3 separate regions of the Homo sapiens genome follow, and all the other regions are linked to region 2. The links come from fine-mapping of genetic effects on gene expression. A gene starts in region 2. Each other region holds a variant in brackets. All regions are shown on one strand. Distances are from middle to middle.

What was found.
Region 1: its variant is fine-mapped to the expression of TBL1X in whole blood (TOPMed, PIP above 0.99).
Region 3: its variant is fine-mapped to the expression of TBL1X in whole blood (TOPMed, PIP above 0.99).

The regions. Positions count from the first base shown.
Region 1 is chrX:9,534,210-9,540,609 of GRCh38, forward strand. The region is part of intron 2 of TBL1X (transducin beta like 1 X-linked); the gene reads left to right. Among named protein-coding and RNA genes, the nearest start is that of TBL1X, 72 kb to the left of the region's middle. The variant A/G (reference allele first, on the strand shown) is at 3,452.
Region 2 is chrX:9,461,295-9,467,694 of GRCh38, forward strand. It overlaps TBL1X (transducin beta like 1 X-linked), which reads left to right and starts at 3,764. Exons shown (of 18, transcript NM_005647.4): 1 at 3,764-4,153. RefSeq lists enhancers at 1,695-1,989, 2,364-3,192, 3,020-3,219 and silencers at 3,450-4,029, 4,150-4,289, 4,590-4,739.
Region 3 is chrX:9,715,041-9,721,440 of GRCh38, forward strand. It overlaps TBL1X (transducin beta like 1 X-linked), which reads left to right. Exons shown (of 18, transcript NM_005647.4): 18 at 1,180-4,700. The coding sequence ends at 1,206. Among named protein-coding and RNA genes, the nearest start is that of GPR143, 48 kb to the right of the region's middle. The variant T/C (reference allele first, on the strand shown) is at 2,821.

The DNA.
Region 1 (6,400 bases), 73 kb after region 2:
TTCATATCAACAGCAACATCTGTGCAGGCATCCTAATGAGTATAAATAATGTCTTCAGAAAACTGGGTTTGTGAGGCTCCTGTCATCTGAATTTCTTTCATCATTTAAGTGATGATTTTTTACTCATTGACATACAGTTGTTATTTAGTGGCCACGTATTATTCGTATAGGGTTCTTTATGTGCTTTCTGTGTACATTTGTTTTCGTGCTCATCGTATTTCAGTGTGGCTTATATATAATAAGATGCACCTGTTCTTAGCTATTGTGGACTTTTTTTTAAAAAAAGGTTTATAGAGATATGATTCACATACCAAACACCCATTTAAGTGCCTAATTCAACAGTTCTTAATACCCTAATTTAAAAAAAAAATACAGTGTTGAGTATTTTCCTTTTCTCGTTTTTCACTAAAGTAGACTCAGGATTGGGGTTATCTGTCAGTCCCTTGGTTTGATTCTTGGCTGCCAGTGTTTACTGGGGACGGATGTTGGTACCTCCCTTAATAGGATATTGTTACAGCATTTTACAAATTCTGGTTAAAAAAAGTCCCACATGAGATCTCCCCTCTTCCCCCCTCTCTGAGTGTAGGCATTGTCAGCTGCAGTTGTCCAGCATCTCCAGGACTCTTTTCATTTGCGGGATGGAAACAATGTACCCTCTGAACAACTCCTCCCTGTTTCTCCTCCCTCCAGCTCCTGGCAACCACTATTCCACTCCCTGCTTCTTTGAATTTCACAACTTGAGGTAGCTTGTGTAAGTGGAATTATTTTAAAAGCTGGTTCATGTTAAAGTGCTTAGAACAGAGCTTGGTGAGCATCCGGTCAACAGTAAGTACTTTTATTATTCTTTTTATATTACTCTTTTTTTTTAAAGAGGCCAGACACATGGGCTTCTGTCTTTTCACAGCTTGGGATCTGTGCAGACCCAGGCTTCCAGAAGCCATCCCACTTGAATTCTTACTCCCTTTTCCCCTAAAAAGAAGCTCTGAAATCCTAATTGTCAAGAAGGCTTTGCCTGCTGTGCATGCCTGAGTAATGTTATTTTTGTCATTATTTGAGAGACAGAGAGGAAGCTTCCAGTCCCCTGTAAGGAAACGAAATCATCGTGCACAGATGTGGTTCTGTTTATAGAGGGAAGGAAATGGAGGTGAAGAGTGTGTGTGGCTTGCAGCCAGGCTTGCGAGTGTGCAGAGGAATAAACTTTTTTGCCTCCAGAGTTTTAACTGGAAATGTGTCTGAATTCTACCTCCTGGGCACACTGGCCTGAGGTCTCCCCTGCATACCTGATCGTGAAAGTCTTCGGGTGTGTTTGTAAACACGCAGCCCCCCTGATGTGAGAGTCAGCACAAACTTCTAAAGATGCGATGATGAATTCTATCAGAGAAGTCTTTCTGGTTTTGTGAAAATAACCTTGCACTCTTTAATTATATCCAAATGATCAAATCTGGCTCTGATGTCTTGTCAAAATTAATGTTAAAGGACAGTGCCCTTTATATTTTACTTGTCTGGGTATAAACATCCTAGTCTTTAAAGTTGAGTCTGTAGGACTACCTCTCTACTTGATTACTCTGAAAAGAGTGTATAGAGTGAGTTTTTAAAATGGAATTAGTGTGCATACGAGGAACAGAGTGACATTTAACAAATCCTTCAATAGATAGTGCTGGTATGAGGATTGGTGAAACTAGAGGTAGGGAATGAGCATTTTTGGTTCTGTATCATATTCCCAAGACATTTTCAAATGATTCACCCTTTGCCATCAGAATGGTTTGAAATCGATCAGCCTGAATCCACTAATGTGGGCTGCGGCACATGAATTTTAACACTAGAAGCACACGGTTGTGCTGTGTTTCAAATGAACTCTGGCCATTTGAAGTGAGCAGGCATAGGCAGTCTTCTGTCCTGTGATAACCTCAGTACATATCCTTTCTGTTTTTTAAAGTACCTTACAAGCTGCTGCATTACAGTCGTTATTATTGGGCCATTACAAAAAGCTGTCCAATTTTAAGTGTCTTGGATAATTCTTGTTTGCCCCAGCATCAGAATTGAGCATTTTTTTTTTTTTTTAGATGGAGTCTTGCTCTGTCACCAGGCTGGAATGCAGTGGCGTGATCTCGGCTCACTGCAACCTCCACCTCCCGGGTTCAAGCGATTCTTCTGCGTCAGCCTCCGGAGTAGCTGGGACTACAGGCATGCACCACGATGCCCAGCTAATTTTTGTATTTTTTAGTAGAGATGAGGTTTCACCATGTGGGCCAGCATGGTCTCGATCTCTTGACCTTGTGATCTGCCTGCCTTGGCCTCCGAAAGTGCTGGGATTACAGGAGTGAGCCATTGTGCCTGGCCAAAATTGAGCACTTTTATCATGTAGTATTCATGTCTTACTGGCAATGCCCTGTAAAGTTAAATAAGTTACATTTGTCTTGCACAGGTAATAATTATGAGGTAATTTCCACAGAATCCAAGGGCCTCATTGACTTTGCTATAAAATCAAAACAGTGAATTCTGATAAGACTAGACGCATGTTACTCTTAAATTGGGCTGTCTCCTGGCCACTGTTGTGCCTTTAACCTCAGCAGAAGGGGAGCTGGGCTGCAGAGTGAAATTACCCGGAGGTCAAATATTGCTAATTTGACTTTTATCATAGAGACATTTTCTCCTCTCGCACCAAGGCAGTGGCTTTAATCCCTCTTTCAGTGGTGAGACAGGTGCAAAGCGTTTACAAAAGGCTTTCTCTTGTTTTGAATGCGCCAAGAAAGATTTCCAGGCCGTTAAGTTACCAATCCTTCTTTTTAAGTCTTGAAGCAATTACTGTAAGGTCAATCCACTAATTTCCTTTCAGAGTTACCAAAGACCTCTCATGTAATCATTTGGTACTTGTTGCCATGTAGCCAGTATCACTGAGTGCTTTTACTGTGAGCAAAGCACAATGCATCGGGCAGGGAGGGATCCAAAGGGATCTTGGTTTTTACCTTTGAGCCATCTGTGGTCTTGAGTGATCTACGTGCATTAGCAATTAAAAGGTCCTGATATTCTTGTTTGGGCATATTGAAAAATGTGCTCTTACAGATAGGTTTCCTCTCTCTACTGCCCCCCGCCCCCCAATTTTTTTTATTGTGGTAAAATACATAAAACAGAATTTACCATCATAACCATTTCTAAGTACACTGTTCAACAGCATTAAATATTCATTACATTGTGCAATCCTCACCACGATCCATCTGCAGAACTTTTTCATCATACCAAACAGAAAACTGCCCCATTAAACACAAACTCCCTATTCTTCCCTCCCCACAGCCCCAGCAACCAACGTTCTACTTTCTCTCTCTATGATTTTGACACTCTAGGGACCTTTTATATGTGGGATCATATGGTATTTGTCCTTTTGCGTCTGGCTTAGCACAAGTTTCATCCATGTCATAGCATGCGTCAGAATTTCCTTCCTTTTTAAGGCTGT[A/G]TAATATTCCAGTGTATGGATGGACTACACTCTGTTTATCCACTCATCTGTCAGAGGACACATGGGTGGCTTTCACCTTTTGGCTGTTGTGGATAATGCTGCTATGAGCATTGGCATATGTTTACTTCTCATTGATTTAAGTTTACATAGTCATGTGTGGCTAGTGGCTGCTGTATTAGACAGGACAACCCTAGGCCTGATAGCCCTGAGGACCTAGTTTGGGTGGGAAGACAGGGGTGACCTGCAGCGAGTTGTCGGCTGGGGGCCTTGGTGAGAGCCAGATCTGGGTTGTGAGGCCACTCGAGGCAGGGGGAATGGTGTGGCGGGAAGTGAGGCCCAAAATGAGAATTTCAGAGTTGAAAGCTTTGGAAGTAACATGATGCTCTATGACTGTGACCAGACTCAACTGCACCAATGTGCATCTGAGATCAGGTCATTGGCGTTGAAATCGTGAAATGCTCACTGCTTGGGACGTTTGCACTGTGCTTGATGTCTGGAGGTTCCGTTAATGTTAAAATAGCAATTATGGGACTGGAGATTAGGTTTAATGTCTGGGTTTTTTCCACTGTCTTCAAAAGCCCGGGTCTTAGTAGTAACCATGCTGCTCCCCATTTTAGTAATTTCAGCCTGGTTTATGTTGCTCAATAGCAGAAAAGCGGTTCAGATTTCCTTTGGATATCATGGACCATATGTTTGCCCAGGTATCCTTTCTTATTGGGAACTATCAAATAGTTAACACAGATTTCTCCAAGGGCACCGACTGGGAAATTAGTTTACCAAAGATAAATTTGGTAAAAGGAAAGTTTTTATGTGCGCTATCCTTAAACTAAGACACATCTGTCGAAATATTAGGACGTGCCCAGTCTCCCATCCTCTGCTGAAACTTTAGACTGTACGTCCTTCAGATATCTTCTCTTTGGTGCTTTGTTTGGGAACAGATTAGCCTCATACTTCCTCGCTTGTAAAACTGCTATCCCATCTCTTGCTCAATGCTTTTCTTGTACCGAAGGGTGAGGGGGAGGTTCCAGCTCTGTTTTCTGTATCAGTTTCCTGGGTGATGTTTGTTTGAGGGTGCCTTGTGTCCAGAGCCCCAGAAGGTGTTTCCGTTCTCTGATGAGCCTGAAGTCTGCATGCTTCGCCTTTGGTAGGGAAAGGCAGCTGGGGAAAGGTTGCATGGCCCAGTGCCAGGGTGCCAGAGTGCGTGTGCACCTGCTGGGGAGAAGCCCGCTGGGGCCCCTCCTCTCAGCACAAGATGAGGCCTCAGGGCAGTGCAGCAGATGGAGGGCTTAGCTGTCCTTGCCAGCAAAAGCTGCTGGGAACGTGGCACTCAGATAACAGGACGGTTGAGAAGCGGTGAGTTAGGGTTACTCTGATGGGGAGATACTGAGAGGAGGGGATGACAATCTTGATTTCTGTTCCCTTTGTGAATCTTTTGGTGGCCAAAATGAGGAAAAGGATACATTGTGTTTGAGGACAACAAGGAACATCTAGGCACATTGCATACTTGATTAAATGCACAAAGAGCTTCTTGTGACCTTTATCACAAGAGTGTGGTTCTATGAAGGTCGTAGGTACAATAGAAATTGTGTTGGTCTGAGAGTTACTCAGATTAGGGTGCATTGTGTCACCACCATTTTGCATAGCTGTGGCACCTTGTCAAGTTAACCTTTTCCTGCTTGCTTTTCCTAATCAGAAGAATGAAGTTGACCGTATGTACTCTATAAGGTGGTTGTGTGAGGTCAATGAGATTACATAGGCAAAATCTTGGTGCAGGGGCACTTGGTAAAGGTTAGTTTCTGTTATAAATTTGGGGTATTCTGTGATGATTCCTACTCCCCTCTTCTCCTCATGGCTAAGTTCTACTTATTCTTTGACGTGGCTCCGATATCACTTTCCTCAGGAAGCCCGGTTTCCCACCCAGATGGCTTTGGGCTACTCATCAGTGTTCTGTAAAATGCTGAGAATATTGTTTATAGCACTTCTGGGTTGTTTTGTGATAGTCTTTTGAGATATCTGTCTCCTCACCAAACTGTTCTTTGTGTCATGGGCAGGCCCACGTCATCCTCGTCTTTGTAGTCCTGCACCTGGCACAGAGCCTGGCACATAGCTCAGTCAAACAGGTGAAGACTGGGTTATTACATCTTCCCACTCCACCCCCTTCATTATCAAGTCGTGGTCAGGGCATGCCCCACCAAATGCAAACCCTACTAGGCAGTACAGCTGAGACTTGGAACTAGACTAACCCAGTGACTCAGAAATGTGCCACAGGACTTATTTGGCTCTAGATGGGGTCTTAAAAGACATTCATAGTTGCAGGCAGAACAGAATATCCAGAACAGGTGCAGAATAACCTGTGTGTACACAGTAGGTGGTAGTTATAATGCAGGAAGAATTTGGCACAAGAAGTGTTACAGTTTAAAATGAAGTCATGGGCCCTATCCACACTGGGGACAGAGATAATAGTAACTAATCATCATCACTGTCATCACTAGCCCATTGTCAGAGGTAGCACTGAACACTTATGCGTTAGCCAGGATTTGGGTTCTAGAGGGTTTAGTGTACTAGTTGGGTTACCAAGACAAAGATGCAGGCATGGGGTGCAAGTTAACAAAGGTTATACACTAGGTGGCAACTGACTCACAGGAGCCTGGTTATTGCAGCGGTTGTGGCCAGAGCCATACAAGTGTTCTGATGCCCCTCAACTGTGTTGAAATTTGTTTGAGGCCAACCAAGTCAGCTGGCGAGGGGGAAGGCAAGCCAGAGAGAAATTGTGAACCAGAAAGGCCCCACCTCTGGCAGTGGCTCTTCCATTGGAGATGAAGTCTTCTTGCCCTGTTTTTCTCTTTAAAAAAGTGAGCCATTTCACAAGGGAAGTTAAATTAAAAACTGTGCTTGTTAGCGCGGAGCTGGGACAACCGAGGGAAGTGATGCCAAAGGCAATTGTTGGTC
Region 2 (6,400 bases):
CAGCTTAGTTAGGTAAATACCTAGGGGCACAACGGCTGACTGTATGGTAAGACTCTGTTTGGCTTTGTAGGAAATTGCCGAACTGTCTTCTGAAGTAGCTGTACAATTGTGCATTCCCATTAGCAACAAATGAGAGTTGCTGTTGTTCTGCATCCTGTCAGCATCTGGGATTGTCAGTTTTCTGGATTTTAGCCATTCTAATGTATGTAGTAGTATCTCATTGTTACTTTAACTTGCAATTCCCTAATGATATATGATGTTCAGCATCTTTTCATATGCTTACTTGCCATCTGTATATCTCTTTGATGAGTTTTTTTCTGATCGTTTGCTCTTTGATTCAGTTGTTTATTTTCTCATCGTGGAGTTTTAAGAAATATGTATATATATATACACATACATATACACATATGTACATATATCTGTACACGCACACACACACACACACACACACACACACACACACTCTAAAAAAAAATTAGAGACAAGGTCTTCTCTGTCGCCCAGGCTGGAGTGCAGTGGTGAGATCACAGCTCACAGCAGCCTCAACAGGTGTGAGCCACTATGCTGGCCTGCATATTTCAAATACAATCCTTAATCAGATATGGAATTTGCAAATATTTCCTCCCATTCTGTGACTTGTCTTCTCATTCTCTTAACAGTGTCTTTTGTAGACTTTTCAAATTTTAGTGATGCCCAACTTACCAATTTTTTTTTCTTTTACGCATCATGCTTTTGGTGTTCTAGCTACACAGTCATTACCAAACCCAAGGTCATCTAGATTTTCTATGTTATCTTCTAAGAGTTTTTATAGTTTTGCCTTTTACATTTGGGGGTATGTTCTATTTTAAGTTAATTTTTGTGAAAGATAAAAAGCCTAGTTTTTTTTTTTTTTTTGGCATATGGGTGTCCAGTTGTTCCAGCACCACTTGTTAAAAAGGATGAATTGCCTTTGCTCCTTTGTGAAAGATTAGTTAAGTATATTTGTGTGAATTCCTACTGCCTTTTAATTAAAATTTTGGGTACTGTTTATGGGGAATGCTGGTAGTATTTGTTGCAAGCAGATTCTTGTTTTCCCCTCCCTCCAGTCAATAACTGAAAATAAGTGTTTGCAACACACACACGCGCACACACGCACATGGCTAGTGCAGTGGGTTTCTGTGTAAATCACTGTGGACCCCTCGCCCTGTTATCCTTTAGCTTTCTCAGAATACACTACCTCCTTGCCGCTCTACTTTATTTCCTTGTTTTCTCCCACCTTATAGGACTGCACATTTGAAAAATCGTTGAAACAGATTAAATAACACAGTCTAATTATCACCCACCTACAGTCCATCTAGTATTTCAAAAAGAGGAATTTTGGTGATTTCACGATAAATGTAGGCGGTCTCTCTTCCTGTCTTAGGTCTTACAGTGTCCTTTGGGGTCCTGTGAGTCTATGATAAAAGATATTGACTCTTTACGGGTAATAAGGGTGGTGGGATTATGGGGATATTGTCAAACAGTCAAGATGAATTCTCAGCTCTTTTGCATTGTCAATTACAGGAGCTCAGCTGTAAATCCTGGCCACACTGGGCTCCAGTTTGAAAGTGAGGATTTCCACCACTTTCCCATACTTTAAAAGACTGGCATCTGCCAAGTAATCAAAACACACAAAGAGGCCTTTTAACCAAGTTTAGCTTGGAATTTCCAACTGCTAACCACAAGCAGGTCTGGCAAGCTAGGAGGCTGGTTGGCTGCGCAGCTACTCCAGAGTGTGCGGTAGCCGAGGGCTGCGTCCGCGTAAAGCCCAGAGCTGTAATGATGTCAACTTGTTATTTACTTTCCAAATCTGAATGACTGAGCAAGGCGAAAGGAGAATCAATCAACCACAATGTGACCCTACAGGCGGAAAAAACGCAGCACTCCCACCAGCAGGCGGTGGGGGAAGGGAAGCACGTGTAGCCAGGGCAGGGTTGCATCATGAGCTCGTTCGGGTTTTCTATTGCACCCTTCGTTTTTCTATTGCATGTAATACCTCAGCATCAGTCTGCACAAGCCCAGGGAGCCCAGGAGCAACGAAGGGCAGGCTCAAGGGAAGGCCCCACCATGTCCTTCTGGGGGGCCTTGAATGGCAACTGATACATAATAAGACACAATCTATTCTGCTGATTCACAATTATGGAGACTGTGTAAGTGTGTATTTTTTTATTGATGTCCTCTAATGATGGTGTAGCAACAGTCGTTTTGCATCATTGACGTTTTACAGCAATATTTTGCAGGGTAATTTTGAGGTCCGCCGTTTTGGTGGAGGACCGGCCTCTTAAAAACTCACCTCCGGCCGGGCACGGTGGCTCACGCCTGTAATCCCAGCACTTTGGGAGGCCGAGGCCGGCGGATTGCCTGAGGTCAGGAGTTCAGACCAGTCTGGCCAATATGGTGAAACCCCGTCTCTACTAAAAATACAAAAAAAATTAGCTGGGCGTGGTGGCATGCGCCTGTAATCCCAGCTACTCGGGAGGCTGAGGCAGGGGAATTGCTTGAACCAGGGTGGTGGAGGTTGCAATGAGCCGACAGCGCGCCACTGCACTCCAGCTTGGGCGACAGAGCGAGACTCCTCAGAAAAACAAAAACAAAAACAAAAAAACAAAAACCTCACCTTAGGTCCCCCTCCCCCTACAACCAGAACAACAAATGGTCTAGAGTTCGAGGAAGAGCAAGTGAGGTTATAGTTTAGATTGCTGAGTGTACCGGGCTCTTAGCACGAAGCTCATTATATAGTAAAGGAAGGGGCAAGAATATTTGAAAAATATTCAACGAGGCTGACCCCAGAGGTGCTGGGGAGGGGGAGTGGAGATCTGTTTAACTGAATTAAGGCTGCGAGTGGTTGGGAGTAGCCTACGTGGAGGGGAGGAAGGAGCGCTGGGGACTTAGGTACACCGGGGCCAGGCCGTGTAAGCCATTGCAACATAAAGCACTTTGCAAGGGCCAGAGGGCTGATGCCTGGGGGGTTGGGGTGGGAGTGATGAGGCCCGAGTGCCCAGGTCCCCCCAACCTCCTCAGCCCCCACACCCGAGTTCCTGGCGCCTATGCCTGTGTGTCTGAGTTTGTCCCTAAGCATTTCTGGCTCTTCTTGGGAGGTGTTTTGCAAAGGTCGAGGCTCCGCCGGAACCCCCACTTTTTGAGCTGGGGTAAAGACTACTGGGGTGTCTTCTAAGACGCCGATTTTGAGGGAGATTCACCATCGGGCAGGTGGCAGGGGGTTCTGTTGGGGCAGCCGGGTGGCTTCCTTTTTGGGGTGGGGGAGGGTAACACTTTAGCAGTGATCGAGGTTCCCCTGCCCCCTAGAAACTGAGGGGGTGGCCGAGGTTCCCGTCCCCTCGAGGCAGTCGTGGAAAGGCTGGGTTTGGGATGTGATGGGGGTAGCCCTGGGGTCCTCTCAGTCCCACGGAGGCCACGGGGAAGGGACCGGGACCAGAGCAACTAGGGAGAGGCCCGGGTTCCCCTCACCCACCCTAGGCGTGGGGGAGCGGGGCGGGCTTGGTAGGGACGCTGGTCCCCCGACCGTGGGACAGGGGCTGGGTTGGGACGCGGGTCCCCACTAGGAGCCGCGGGGGAGGGGCAGGGCCGGAGTCCCTACCCTCGTAGGGGAGGGGCTGGTTCGGGACGCGGCTCCCCCGGGGCGCAGGGGCGGGGCCGGGTGGTACGCCGGGTCCCCTCCCACGGCCGTGAGGGAGGGGCCGGCGGCGGGGGCGGACCCCTGGCGGTCCTCCTGGCTGGGGTCCGCGCGCTCGCGGCAGCTCCCCGTGGAGGTCACTGTCCGTGCCAGTCCCTCCCGCTGTCCCGCCCTCTCCCGCTGCCGCCGCCGCCGCCGCCGCGCCCGCCTCAGCGCCCCCACTCCGCGCTTGGGAGCGAGGAGCCGCCAGCGCCCCCGCCCCGCCGCCGCCGCAGCGCCCTCAGGCCGCCATTCGCCACCGAAACTTTCCAGCGCCCGCGCTCTCTCCGGGACTCGGCGGCGGCGGGGCGGGGGCGGCCCGGGGGCGGCGCGCGGCTGCTCCGGGGCGCCGGGCCCTCTTCGGCCGCCGCACGGCCGGGACTCGGAGGCTGCCGGCTGGAGGGAGGTTCGGAGCGCGGCCGGGCGCGCGGCGCCGCCACAAGTTGCGCTGCTCGCGACGAGGTGAGTGCGCAGGGCTCGGCGGGCCGGGCGCGGGGTCCGCAAACTTCTGCGGGGAGGCGGGTCCCGCGCTGACCCTCCAGGGTCCGGCCGGCGGCTCGGGGCGCCCGAACGCTCCACCCGCCCCTGGAACTCCTGTAGGTGCAGGTCGCCAACTGTCCCCGCGGCGCTCGGACTGGGGTGCGGCGCGCTCCCAGGAGCCTGAACAATACCCCGAGGTGGCCGCTCCCCGAAGTGCCGGCGCGCCTTGCGGGGAGAGACGGAGGTCGGCGGGGGGCTCCTTTGTTTTGGGGAGGGGGAAGTGGCCGGTAAGTTTAGGGAAGCGCTCGGCTTTTCCTCCGGTGCCCCTTTGTCTGCCGATTCAGGGGCTTGCTGGGCAAACCTGCGCCACCGCGGGCTCCGGGGACCGGGGTGGAGGGCGGTGGCGGGATTTCCCCGCTGTTGGGGAGAAGAGCCCCATTCATACCCGGGACGCGGGCCGGCCCTCCCGGACCCGGGTGGAAGCGCAGCCTCGCGGAGTGGGGCAAGCGGCGGGCGAGGTGGCGCGGGCCCCGTGTCTGCTCAGTTTCTGACGCGCAGAAACTGTCAAGGAAGTCGGGAGCCCCAGTCCTCCGCCCATCTCCCCGGCCTGAGCGCACGGCTGGGCTGGGGGCACCCTTGGCCCGTCGAGGGTCTGCAGAGCGCCGCCCGGGGAGAGCGCAGACCTGTTGCTGCTCCTGGGCTCTGACGGGGCGGGTGGGGTGGGTCTCGCAGATCCTGGGCCCCGGCCTTGCTATCCAGGGGGACCTTCCCTAACGATGGGACCGGTGCTCGGAGTGGAGTATGGGGAGTGCGCCTTCGGGAGTCGGCGCTGGCCGGATATGTGACAACTGTGGGTCGCTGGAGGCCCGCCTGCGCTGGGATAGGGCCTGGACTTCACGTGCGTCGCCTGTGTTCCGTCAGACCGGGGCCGGGGCTCGCTCCCTGCAAGGCCTCGTGTTCCCCCAGCCAGCTGCGTTGGACGTTCCACAAAGGTAGGGACTGACGTTTATTCTCGAGTCAGTGATGTTCTGGAGCAAAACCTAAAAAGAAACAAAAACCTACCCTCTATTGTATTTGCAACTGTTTCTGCTTTGCATTGTCATGTGTGGTTTGACCTGCCTTTTGGATGTTTTCCTCTCCTGAAACATCGCCCAGTCCCTGGTTTAACCTGGAAGGCGAGGGGGAAGGAAGGCAACCTCCCTGCTAAGGTTCCAGGCAGTGGCTTTGGTGTTGGAAGTGGCACTTGACGATTTTATGAAAAGTTTACAAGTCCTTCCTAGAAAAGATGTAATTAGGAAAAATAAAATACAGAAGAACGTTGAGTATGACGCGTTTATTTTAAAGGGTAGTCCTGTCTCAAATGTGCTGCACATTTTTGTGGAAAGCCACCAAGCTGGGTAACTAATGCAAACAACAAAAGTTGTTCATCACTGGATCACCGGCCCTTAAGGCGATTCCAGCCCTTAGTAGAACACACACCTGTAGGGCAAATATGGAGATTTGTGGTGTAGTGCTGCCACCCTCGCTCCCCAACTCTCAGGCATTTTGCCCCTTTACCTCAGAGAACTTCTCTCTGTCAGTGGTTTTAAAGAGGAAACAGTTTGCAAAAATAACTTTATTGTAGACATACTTAGAAGTGAATGTTTCAATTTCTGGAGTTTTCCCATCAATTATATCAGTACCACTGGTTCTGTACAACATCATCTTAGTTAGAAGATTTTTTTTCACCTTTTAAGGTGACGAACAGAGGCGGGAAAATGGTCCCTGCAGAGGGAGGCCATCTCCAGCAGGTCCCGAGGGTCAGGAATTCAGATTATCCGATCTACTCCTGCTGGATAGGAGCACACCTCCGCTAGAACCTGGGTCCGGCCCCCTCCCAGTTTTCTGCAGGGCGTCCAGATTCCGGTGCTCTGCCCCGCAGCAGTGCCCTGTGGGCCTCCTGGCTTAGCTGATCAGCACAGCTTCTCTGCCCAGCGAGGCAGGACCATCCTCCCACTGCTTTCCTGATGCCTTGGATTTGCTTTTTTTCCTCCCTTAGGAAAAGCAAAAAAACCTAATATGCTACATCCGAGAAGTTGTTAATCTTTCACTACCACATGCATTGAAAAATCAGTTCCACCCAGGAAGCAACACTAAAGGCATATTGTAAACACTTTTTTTTTTTTAGTTGGAAAGATAAACTTTTTTCCCCCATAACTATTTTTAGTTAGCCGGAGACTGGACTCGAGT
Region 3 (6,400 bases), 250 kb after region 2:
TGGGGGCAGCTGATGCCTAAGTGAGCTTCCAGGGCGTGTGCAGCATTCGTGTCCTGAAGGGCCTAGCCCAGTGCCAAAGGAAGCTTCTGGGCTGGATCCCATCGGAGTTGGTACCACATCTGGGAATGGCCTTCTCCTTGTCCCTTCCAGAGTGTCCTTCTAGTCAACATTTTCTCAGTCAAATTGGTGGTTCTCAACCAGGGTGATTCTGCACCTCTAAGGACATTAGACAATATCTGGAGCCATTTTAGGTTGTCACTACAGTCATGTGTCGCTTAATGACGGGAACGTTTTGGGAAATGTGTCATTAGGCACTTTTATCTTTGTCTGAACATCATAGAGTGACTGACACAAACCTAGATGATAATACCTGTCCCACACCGAGGCTGTGTGGTACAGCCTATTGCTCCCAGGCTACAAACCTGGACAGCGGGTGACCATACTGATTCCTGTAGGCAACCAGAACACAATGGTAAGCATTTGTGCGTCCGGATCTATCTAAACATAGAAAAGGTTCAGCAGATATATGGTTATAATCTTACAGGACCACTGCGGTCTGTGCGGTGCGTTGTTGCTGGAAACGTCATTATGTGACGCGTGACTGTGCTTAGATGAGGATGCTGCTAAACCTCCTACTGTGCACAGGGTGGCCACAATTGTCACCCATGCTGTGGCTGAGAAGCCCGGGCCTCTGGTGGCCATCCTGCAGGTCTCCTGGGCCCTCTTCTCTTCCCATGGGGCATCTGGATTTCTTATTTTCCCCTGGACTTGAGGTTGCCCTGACCTCTGGGGCAAGCGGCCGTTCTGGCTGAACGGCCAAGGGTCAGAGTAGTCCCCAAATGTTGTCAGAGGCTGTGTACTTGGGCTCGTATTGTCATCTGCCCCACGATTGCAGGTGTCCCTTCTGGGACCTCTGCCACTCTGTTAATTCCTATCATTACCCTTAACCTGGCCTTTCTGCTCTGTGCTGTTTGCTTCAGTTTGCTCGGTCCGATGTCCAGATGCCAGTCTGTTATGAGAGCTTCTCTGACCCTTCATGACGATGTTCCAATAAACTTTACTGACAAACATCGGTGGAGGGCTAGATTGGGCGTGGGGGCCGTAGCTTGCCGACTTCTCACTCTAAAGGCATCTTTGTATTGTCTCTCAAGATGACAGGTGCTTTATCTTTCCTTCCAGGTGTGTGTTTTGGATCTGCGGAAGTAACCACAAAATATTATCGAAAAAAGAAAAGAATTCTAATGACCAGCCGTGAATGTGTAGGGTTGCAGCTCTATTCTCCAAAACTGTAGGAACTTGACTTGCGTTAGAGTGTACTCTGAAACCAACTCGTCTCTGGCCGCAGGAGTCTATATGTTTTCGTAATCTTCATCAAGAAGTTTTTAAAAGGCAAGCAAAAACAGAAGCAAATCATATCAAACGGGGATAGAATGGTTTCCACTGAGGACATTCAGCCTGGGAAGGAGGAAGTCACCAGCTCGAGGCGTGTGGATTGGTTTCCACCCGGAACAGGCTCTGTGATGGCTGAATGGAAAGAAACGTAAAAAGCTGTGCCAAAAAAAAAGCAAAATGCTGTGATAAACCAAACAGGGAAGGGGGAAAAACCCTCCTCCTTGGGATTTTTTTTTTTTGTTTTCCCTAACAATTTGGACACTACAATTGCTCTCACAAAGGAGGTTCAAAGACCAGTTTGTACCGATGAAACGCGCAACTTTGTAATCCCAACACTTTCTATTTTCTAGAATCTTCTTTGTTCATTGGGTGGTTTTTCAGTCGGCTGGAATTCTATCTTCTGGGGGCCTTCCGTCTGAGATGGAAGCTGTCTTGGGCTTGTTGTCTCTTCCTTCTGTTGCTCCCTGCCCCTCCCCCTGCCTTTCCACTCTGTCTGGTGAGCTCTGCTTTTTCAGTGCACCATCAAGAGATGCAGCCCCGTGGACATGAAGACACAATCTCCCACGGACAGCTTTCCCCCTTCCGCCCTCTCCCACCCTCTCCTCCCCTTGCGCTCGCGCTCGCGCTCGCTTTCTCACTGGCGTGCTCTCTTTCTCTCTCTCTCTCCCTCTGTACCTTTCTCATAGTTGCTTCAGATCTTAGGTCTCAAGGGCACTTTGGCGCGTAGTAAGTGCTTTATGTAAGAAGGCAGGGCAGGGGGGCTTTTTACAGGAGAAAAAAAAATGACTTATAAGAGAAAGAGCCTGGAGTATTTTTGGAAAAAAAAATAATATTTTTATGTTAAAACAATTTTAAAATCTTAAAATGGCCATCAGACATAGAGAGCTTTGTGTGATTCATGTTTTAAAAAGAACCGAAGAAGCCACAGGCAGGGCCTGAGGGAGCCCCTGGCTTTCCCCTCAGCCTCAGGAAAGGTGGTCAGGAAAACTCTGGCTGGACAAGGGTCAGTCTTCGGGGTCAGCAGCGAGATTGCTCTGCAGCCAGTGAGGGAGGTCCCCGCCATGCCGGCTGGAAGAAGAACCTCGCATCTTTTGGTGTGTATGCACCTTGGCAGCCAGCAGGAAAGCAGCGAAGAGCCGCGCGCCCTCTGGCCTCAAGGGAGCATTGGCAGAACCATAAGGTACTGCAGAAGCCGTCGAAACCGACTGCTCGGCTGGATTAGGCGTGTTGGCTACATCTTTCCCACAACCGTATAACGACCGATGGTCATTTCTCCAAGAGCAGGCTTGGCGAGTCCTTGCAGAGCTGACATAGAGGCGCCCGCATGTCACTTAGTCTAACGCTGACAGAAATGAATGCAGAAGGAAGATTTTCAGTCCTGAACGTGAATTATAGAGGTAGAACGTCGCTAATAATTTCTGCCATCTT[T/C]ATAATTTCTTTGTCTCACAGAAGACTAGGAGAAAGATCTTTTTTAAATAATCTTTTTGCTGTTTTTAAAAAATTAAACAAGGCTTTGTGTTCCTAGAAGAGCTTCATTTCAGTGAATCTGGTGACCTCCATCTGCTTGCTGTCATAACCCGACACGGACTTATTTTTGTCATTAGCAAGGGGGAAAAGGCCAAAGGACAAGGGCCTCTTCTCCCATTGGTTTTCCTGTGGGCAGAAGGGCTGAGGAAGATGGCCCAGCCCGTGGGGGCTGCTGGGTCACCAGCAGTGGGTAGGGTGCAATCTGGTGTGTGTTCCAGCAGTGAGACGGTGTTATTGTGAAGGTGGCATTCATCTGCGGAGCCAAAACCCAGCCATCGGGGAAGGGTCAGGGCTTCTGTGGAACTTGGAACGTGCCAGGACCACCTGCAAAAGCCAGGGTGCGTTGATCATTCTCAGATCATTGATTGGCCTCCACTTGGGTATGTGAATTATTCATGTCCCAGAAGACCAAAAAGTGCTCTGGTTCTGAGATGAGTATTTTATTCGTGTTCTGTTTCCGAAACACTTAGCAAAGAAGGTCACAGTGATGTGGAGTCGCCGCACCCATCTTTGAAGATAGCCAGTGTCCCTGGATGAGGTGATGATTTCCCGTCCCAAGGACTCTGTGAAGTTTAGAGTACAGTTTGTTGGGGTCCAAAAGACACCATCTCTACCCCACCCAAATAAAAATGCACTCATCTCTGTAGAACATCTGCTGTCAAAGGCCAGCCTGTCGTTAGGGCATGGCTTATGCTTGACAAACCAGTAACAACTGTGGGATGGCGATGGTGGGATGTGTCGCAAGCAATTCACTAGACAATCTTCACATGAATGTCGGTAGCCAGGGTCTCTCCCGAGGGATGGCTTTAGTCTTGATGAATGTGAACCATGTCGGAATTGTTAGGTAGAAACCTGGGCTGGGAGGCCTCGGACCCCAGGCTCCATCCCTGGCTTCCCCAGCCTGCGGCCGCAAGCAAAACCAAGCGCGAGATGCAGCTAGCACCCTTCATATCCATCCCCGTTCTCAGCGGGACAACACCATGGACAGCCGTTTTCAGAGCCTCCAGCATTTGCACACCACTACTCACCCTCTCTGCTGCTGGCATGTTGGTAGAGTCATCCCTGTAATCAAGAAATGGCCTGTGGAATGTTATTGTTCAACGTTGTTTACAGCTCTTAAAACATGGTGAGGAATGCCTAAGTCTTAGTGACCAAACGTGACCTTGAAAGCAGACATAGCATGACAGACCTTCCTAGAGTGTTTGGTCGGGTTCACAGTGACCGAGAGTCAGGTCCAGCACACACCTGGGAAAGGGATGCTGCCCCAAGGGGGACCAAAAGGGCCGGACGTTACAGGGTGAAACCCTCTGACCCCTCGCGACACCGTAGGACTTGACTTTTGTTTAGTCTTTCTAAGAAATAGATCATGGAGCCAAGTGAAGTGCACTTTGTCAAATGTAAGGGTCTGCTTTGTTCTTGTTGCTTTTCTGTTTTTTAACCTTTTGTTCCGCCATTTAAAAAAAGAAAAAAAAAAAGCTTATGTTTCTTGTCAAATGCAGAAATGTTCCTTCCGCCACTCACTGAAGTTTTGCATTCTGGCTTGTGCAGTTTTTATTGTCTGTGTCAGACGTACAGCCAGACATGTTCTCTATTGGCATTTTTCCGATTCTGTTCAGATGACAGCGACCGCCTTTTCATTCCCCCCGCCACCTGTACTCACCCTCACGCTCTTTGAAGAAAAAAAAAAAAATCACCTTGTGTGTTGTAGCTCATTTGTTTCAAGAGAGAATCAACAGATCATATTCAGTGTCTTGAATAAATTGCTCTATTTTGATATTAGAGAACTTGGTGGGTGTGCTTTCTTCCTCTCGCTCTGGAACTCTTGGGCCCACGTTGACTGAATGACTGAAGACAGAGCTCTGTATTTTCTCCAGAAGGAAGTACCTTGAGCCTCTGTTTAGGATTGCTGTGTGAGATAGGGAGCTGGGAGCAGAACGCAGTGACATGGCAGTCACAGCAGCCGCCTGCTGTTCTGAAAGGTGGTTCTGTCCAGGGATCATGTTTTTTAGTGTGTTTCCTTTTCATTCTTTATTTCAGGCTGGCTGTTGGAGAAAGACAAAGCAAATGAATGTTCTCTCATCAGCGGATTGGTTGACCGGGAGTTTGAGTTCCCGAATTACCCCCGAGTAATTTGCAGAACCTAACAGGATGGGGTGACTTTGGACATGGACGTCTGCATGGTGCAAACCAACATGTGGCAAACATTTATTGACATTTGCTCTGTGCATGTCTTCATTTATGCTGCTTTAATTAATTAGGTGGCTGTTAAATAATGTAATTAGTGAATGGATATTGCTATCGGCATTCTATGAAGGAGGCTGTAGATTCCGAGAGGCGAAGAGATGGCCTTACTCTTAGTCTAAGGTTTCACTTTGCAGATGAGTCCCAGACAAAGTCACGGTGTCATTTCCCTCTAATCCTGCTTGTTCCGCACTAGGACAAAGCAGATGGCTAGGGGCGTAGAGGCTTCTGTGGTGATTCCCTGGGAAAGATCCAAGTGTGCCTGTGACCTTCACTGATGATCCGGACTTTTGCAGGAACCAAATCCCAAATTCAAGTCTTGAATTGGCAACTGAAGACTGAATATTATATGAGCAGTTGTCACCTTTAGAGAAAAACTTACCCTATCTTCCGGTGTTTTCTGGGGTTCACCTTCTCATTTTCATTTTTCTCTTTAGCCCCTGCCAAGTGGAGCAAGTGTGTTGCCAGGTGGTGGATTTGGGGCACCCTGAGGGGTACTGCAGAACCCTGGGACAGCTCGGGAAGAACCGCATGGAAACAGTGGGCAGACAACAAAGCATGCGGCAGTTCCCAGGATAAATGCACGTGTGGCGGGTGGCTTTGGTGGCTCCCCTAAGAATGCCGTTGACGTATGACTGGCTCTAAGTGGGTTTCTTTGTGATATAGAGGAAAGTTGATTGGGACCACGATTGCCAGAATTTATATAACTTAAATCTTCAGATGGATGGAACCCTTCCCCGCAGTGCGTCTCAAAAGGTTCCCCCAGTCCATTGAAGCTCCTCCTTTATTTTAGGAATCTAAGTTTCAACTCACTAAACAGAGATCTCGCTTTTTTTTTTAAATTGCCCCATCTTGGTGCTGTTTCAAAAGGATATCAGAGAACATTATTCATGTTCACAGAAAGCTCTCTGCACAAGTTCTGTCTGGAAGCTGGCTGTTGATGATGGCTGTCTGGTGGAAACCTGGAAGTCCCTTGTGAAGTACAGGAAAAGGGTAGGAGGGGGAGGAGAACAGATTTATGCCCTTAAAAAAGATGTCTGAGCCAGTTTTTGTCCAGTCTGGGTCCTTTGTCTCTGAAGTGTCTCATCCACAGCACGGTAAGTAAGGCAAGAAGTTCAGTCTGGAGAATAGAGAAGGAACAGTGGGTTCGGGGAGGAGGATGTTGTCTGTAGGACCACCCTTCAGCTAGAATGTGAAGCAAATGCTCTGGAGAATGGACGCTTTGGTTAGGAACAGTTAT